2 separate regions of the Homo sapiens genome follow, and region 2 is linked to region 1. Evidence: fine-mapped expression QTL. A gene starts in region 1. The other region holds a variant in brackets. All regions are shown on one strand. Distances are between the middles of the regions.

Region 1 (2,909 bases):
TGTCCCCAACCTTGCCCTCGGTTCCACTACCAAAAGAGGGAACACTGGGCTTGCCCCAGCAAGGTGTTATTTATGTCAGGCTAGGGCCACTGTGGCTCCCAGCTCTTACTGCTTTCTAGGTGCCCTTACAGACTTCCCCACTGCCCCCTGCATATGCCAGAGTGTGAACATCCCCTCCCTCTCCACAGCCCCCACAGTGGGGTTCGGGTGGGCAGGGAGGTGGTTTCATCCCTCTACATACAGCCCTTGGAGACCTACCTAGGCAATTTGTCACTCAGGCTTCAAGCTGCCAGCCGAGGAGGGGAGCTGAGAAGACTCTATAATGAGATCTTTGCACTGTAATTAAGTGCCAGGCTTTGTTTTACACCTATCTTTCCCGCCTTGCCCGATCCCACCGCCAAGCTCCTCCAGGCAGTGAGTGGGGAGTGTCAGCTGCTCTGTGATTACACCCCAAGTGGCAGGTGGCAGGGAGCTCCTCCGCCTGCAGTCTGCGCCCCACCCCCAGGCTTCCCCCACCACCAGTCTTAACTCAAGACAGTGCTATTTCTGTCCTTGAACTGGGTTTCACCCCAGAAAGCCACTCCACCGCTTTCTCATAAGGCTACCTCCTTTTAACCCTGTGGTTGCACGGCCTCTGGGGTGTCCATTTCTTTCTTTTGACACGTCCCTTTTCCTGAAAGTTTCAGCAAACCCCATAGGCAGAGGGAGTTAGAAAAAGGAAAAGAGAAGTTAGGGCAGGAGGAGCACTGTTCTTATAGGACAGGAAGGGTCTGTCTTCTCTCTTGGGTCCTCCACACAAAATCGGAGCTTCCAAACACCCCAGCTCCCAAACATATGCAGCAGATTCTGCTGACAGGAATGTGTCACTGTGATCTTCACATTTTAGCCTGAAGTTTAGCCTACCTGAAGAAGCACCGGAGTGGGAGTGGGAGAACATGGGATGGTGCTTCTCTTTGGCCTGGCTGTGCTTTTGGACACTTCAGGTCTTCGGCCTGGGTTTCCTCCTCCGTACGATGAGGAGAGGATGGGAGGGGGCAATGCTGGCATGTGTGATCTCGATAGACACTGTGGAAGTCTGCAGAGACCGGAGCATAACCTCTGCCTCCTCTCCCCGGGCCTAGCCTCTCACAGCCCTCAGAGAAAACCCTGAGCTGCGGCGTGGCCGAGACGGGGGCGTGGCCTGGCAGGTGGGCGGGCCCTTCCGTGGGCGGGGCCGCGAGGTTTTCAGGAGCCCGAGCGAGGGCGCCGCTTTTGCGTCCGGGAGGAGCCAACCGTGGCGCAGGCGGCGCGGGGAGGCGTCCCAGAGGTGAGCGCCCTGCAGCGGCAGGGGATGGGCCGGGGGCCCTAAGTCGTAGGCAGCGCGGGGCGGGGACGCGGCTGCCTGCGGAGGTCGGACTCCTCTCCGCCCTCCTCCCGGGCTGTCCGGGTCTATTTTCCAGTCTATGTCCAACTCGCGCCGCCTCACTAGGCGGCGCTCTCTGCCCCGCGGCACCCGCGAGACGTGGGGTCCCTCGGCCCAGGGACGGGGTGAGCGTGTCATGTGGGTGCCCTGTGCCCGGCAGGTTGGAGACGAAGAGACCTCGGCACAGACGAAGTCACTCACATCCTCGCTTTGAAACAGAGCGGGTCCTTCTTGTGCTGTCTCGCTGTCACTCTCGCCCCCACCCTGTGGAAGAGGCAGGTGGCTTGTCCCCAGTCACTTTCTTCCTTGGAAAAGGGAGACAGAGGGCCATCTCCAGCAGGGCCATGGAAATCCCAGAAAGTCACTGAGCTGCTCAACAAAAGGCCCTAAACACCCCACCCCACAGCACCAGGCAGTGCACACTGGCCAAGACTCCGTGGTAAATATTGCTGGCCTTTATGTTGAGAGGGGGAAAAAAAAGCCTGCCTGTGAAGATCATTGCCCAGTGGCCATGCTCCTGTGAAAACACAATTGGAAAGCCATTTCCTAAGGGGCGAGGGTGGGTCTGGGACCATGCTGTGGCTTGGGTGATTGGTGGTTGCAGGAGTGAGGGTGCTGCCCTGGGAAGGCGCTGAGGCCCTGTTGGGTGGGAATCGACGGCTGCGGCTTTCTCCCGGAGGAGGGAGAGCGGTGTTGTTACCTAGTGTTGGGAACACATCCGTCCAGCACCGTGAACTGCAAACAAGCAGAGTAACCCTAGTGTCCTTCAGATACTGTTGCTGAGCAGTCACCTAGTCAATGAGATGATCTGTTTGGACGGCAAGTGCATCTGTAATGCCGCCCTCTTGCTCAGTGCCTGGAAGAGGCATTGGTGACTCCCCGCTAATGCTAGGGGTAGCTACCGTGCAGGAGCAGTCAGGCTCTTGCAGGGCCAATGTGGTTTCATCAATTTTCTCCTGCATTTACCCAGCCCCTCCGAATTCTGAGAAGTGCGTCCAAGATCTCTTGGACTCCTTGACTCAGTTCACCCTTGTTCTTGTGGGCAGAAAACAATTCCCAGTGTGCCATGCACAGCCAGTCAGAAGGGAAGCCCTGGAGCAGGGCCCTGGGAGAAGTTCTGTGGGGCTGGATGCTAATTATTCAGTTACTGGATTGTGGGGAAATTCCAGGGGAGGTCCCAGAGGAGAGACCGTGCTAAAGCTAATTACTAAGCAGTACAAAAATAATCTCTCTCTCTCTCTTTCTCTCTCTCTCTCTCTCTCTCTCTCTCTCTCTCTATATATATATATATATATATATATATATATATATATATGTAATTTTTTTTTTGAGACAGTCTCACTCTGCCGCCCAGGCTGGACTGCAGTGACACAATCTCGGCTGACTGCAACCACTGCCTCCAGGGTTCAAGCGATTCTCTTGCCTCAGCCTCCCAAGTAGCTGGGATTACAGGTACCCACCACTACGCCTGTCTAATTTTTGTATTTTTAGTAGAAATGGGGTTTCA
Region 2 (2,909 bases), 33 kb after region 1:
CTACATTGATTTGCAAAAGAATCACATTGCAATAATTCAAGACCAAACATTCAAATTCCTGGAAAAATTACAGACCTTGGATCTCCGAGACAATGCTCTTACAACCATTCATTTTATTCCAAGCATACCCGATATCTTCTTGAGTGGCAATAAACTAGTGACTTTGCCAAAGATCAACCTTACAGCGAACCTCATCCACTTATCAGAAAACAGGCTAGAAAATCTAGATATTCTCTACTTTCTCCTACGGGTACCTCATCTCCAGATTCTCATTTTAAATCAAAATCGCTTCTCCTCCTGTAGTGGAGATCAAACCCCTTCAGAGAATCCCAGCTTAGAACAGCTTTTCCTTGGAGAAAATATGTTGCAACTTGCCTGGGAAACTGAGCTCTGTTGGGATGTTTTTGAGGGACTTTCTCATCTTCAAGTTCTGTATTTGAATCATAACTATCTTAATTCCCTTCCACCAGGAGTATTTAGCCATCTGACTGCATTAAGGGGACTAAGCCTCAACTCCAACAGGCTGACAGTTCTTTCTCACAATGATTTACCTGCTAATTTAGAGATCCTGGACATATCCAGGAACCAGCTCCTAGCTCCTAATCCTGATGTATTTGTATCACTTAGTGTCTTGGATATAACTCATAACAAGTTCATTTGTGAATGTGAACTTAGCACTTTTATCAATTGGCTTAATCACACCAATGTCACTATAGCTGGGCCTCCTGCAGACATATATTGTGTGTACCCTGACTCGTTCTCTGGGGTTTCCCTCTTCTCTCTTTCCACGGAAGGTTGTGATGAAGAGGAAGTCTTAAAGTCCCTAAAGTTCTCCCTTTTCATTGTATGCACTGTCACTCTGACTCTGTTCCTCATGACCATCCTCACAGTCACAAAGTTCCGGGGCTTCTGTTTTATCTGTTATAAGACAGCCCAGAGACTGGTGTTCAAGGACCATCCCCAGGGCACAGAACCTGATATGTACAAATATGATGCCTATTTGTGCTTCAGCAGCAAAGACTTCACATGGGTGCAGAATGCTTTGCTCAAACACCTGGACACTCAATACAGTGACCAAAACAGATTCAACCTGTGCTTTGAAGAAAGAGACTTTGTCCCAGGAGAAAACCGCATTGCCAATATCCAGGATGCCATCTGGAACAGTAGAAAGATCGTTTGTCTTGTGAGCAGACACTTCCTTAGAGATGGCTGGTGCCTTGAAGCCTTCAGTTATGCCCAGGGCAGGTGCTTATCTGACCTTAACAGTGCTCTCATCATGGTGGTGGTTGGGTCCTTGTCCCAGTACCAGTTGATGAAACATCAATCCATCAGAGGCTTTGTACAGAAACAGCAGTATTTGAGGTGGCCTGAGGATCTCCAGGATGTTGGCTGGTTTCTTCATAAACTCTCTCAACAGATACTAAAGAAAGAAAA[A/G]GAAAAGAAGAAAGACAATAACATTCCGTTGCAAACTGTAGCAACCATCTCCTAATCAAAGGAGCAATTTCCAACTTATCTCAAGCCACAAATAACTCTTCACTTTGTATTTGCACCAAGTTATCATTTTGGGGTCCTCTCTGGAGGTTTTTTTTTTCTTTTTGCTACTATGAAAACAACATAAATCTCTCAATTTTCGTATCAACACCATGTTCTGTCTCACTAACCTCCAAATGGAAAATAATAGATCTAGAAAATTGCAACTGCCCTTAGAGGTTTCCAGTCTCCATTGATTTTCTTTCAGATCCAATAATACCGTTCTGTCCTGCTGTGTTGATTATGGAATGTATCCTAATCATGGGAAGGGCACCTTGGGAGAAGTTGCAGATGGCTGACGTGCTTTCTCTAGCATTCAGCTAAAAAATGGGATGGTCCATGATTCTGCGTTCTCTGTGTTCTGCAAAACAACATTAAGTAGAAAACAAACAGAAGCAGAGGCACATTTCCTTCTTTTGCCACAGAAACAATGCCACTGTTGAGTGCAAGTCACACTTTGTCTCATAGATAAGAGGTGGCCCCAAAGAAGCTGGGATGAATGAGTCACTACCTGTCTTGTGACTGTACTGCACTTCATGTTCTTACCTTCGGCTTCTCCAGGTCTCGCCCTAGTGAGCCAAGAACTTTCTCTCACATGCTGCCTTTATTTAAGCCTGGCCTTCAAGACCTTCCATGATTTATCACCAACCTACCTTTTCAGCTTTGTTTCCTAGCACACCTCATTGATCAGCTGCTCAGGCTGTTGCATGAAGAACATGGACTTTGCACACAGATCCTGGGTTGAGTTCTGAGTCAGCTGTGTATTAGCCATGTAACCTTGGCCTTGGTATGCCCTTGCTGGACCTACATTTTCTCACGTAACAGCATCTATGTCATAGAATTCCTGTGAAAATTAAATTGGCCAAGGATGTCAGGGCTTCTCAGATCTTTTCCTTCGTTGCCCTAATGACCACAAGAGAACACATACACTGAAGGCCTCCTGGGGGGCAGTTGCAATTTCACTGAAGTTGTATTTTTTTATCTTAAATGAAATCTATGTGTATTTTCCATTCTGTTCTTTTTTTCATGTTTATTAATATAGAAATGTGTTTTTGCAAAAGGATTAAGAATACTTAAAACAAGGAAACTGTGCCAAAATTACCCCATAGCTTCACACACTGCCTCCTCCAAGTCCAGCGTAACTCCAGGTCAGCTCCTGCAGTTTGAGGGGTACACATGGGTCTGGGACTCAGCTCTCCAAACTGTCACCTTCTTCCCCTCACTGGGCCCCTCAATCCTGACTCCTCCAACACACACACGCGCGCACACACACACACACACACACATACACGCTATTCTCATCCCAACTTCTTTTGGCCACTTCTAATCAATGAGACCGAGCTTTCCCTGCACCCAGCGATGGCATTATTTTCACGCAC

Evidence for each region. PIP is the estimated chance that this variant, and not a neighbour inherited with it, causes the effect.
Region 2: its variant is fine-mapped to the expression of TLR5 in monocytes after LPS (Fairfax 2014, PIP 0.93). The same link has a PIP of 0.9 or more in whole blood.

The regions. Positions count from the first base shown.
Region 1 is chr1:223,141,593-223,144,501 of GRCh38, reverse strand. TLR5 (toll like receptor 5) reads left to right here and starts at 1,254. Exons shown (of 6, transcript NM_003268.6): 1 at 1,254-1,306; 2 at 2,739-2,854. LOC124904522 (a long non-coding RNA gene) reads right to left here and starts at 1,147. Exons shown (of 2, transcript XR_007066895.1): 1 at 904-1,147. RefSeq lists a silencer at 1,096-1,465.
Region 2 is chr1:223,109,035-223,111,943 of GRCh38, reverse strand. It overlaps TLR5 (toll like receptor 5), which reads left to right. Exons shown (of 6, transcript NM_003268.6): 6 at 1-2,540. The coding sequence ends at 1,489. Among named protein-coding and RNA genes, the nearest start is that of TLR5, 33 kb to the left of the region's middle. The variant A/G (reference allele first, on the strand shown) is at 1,435.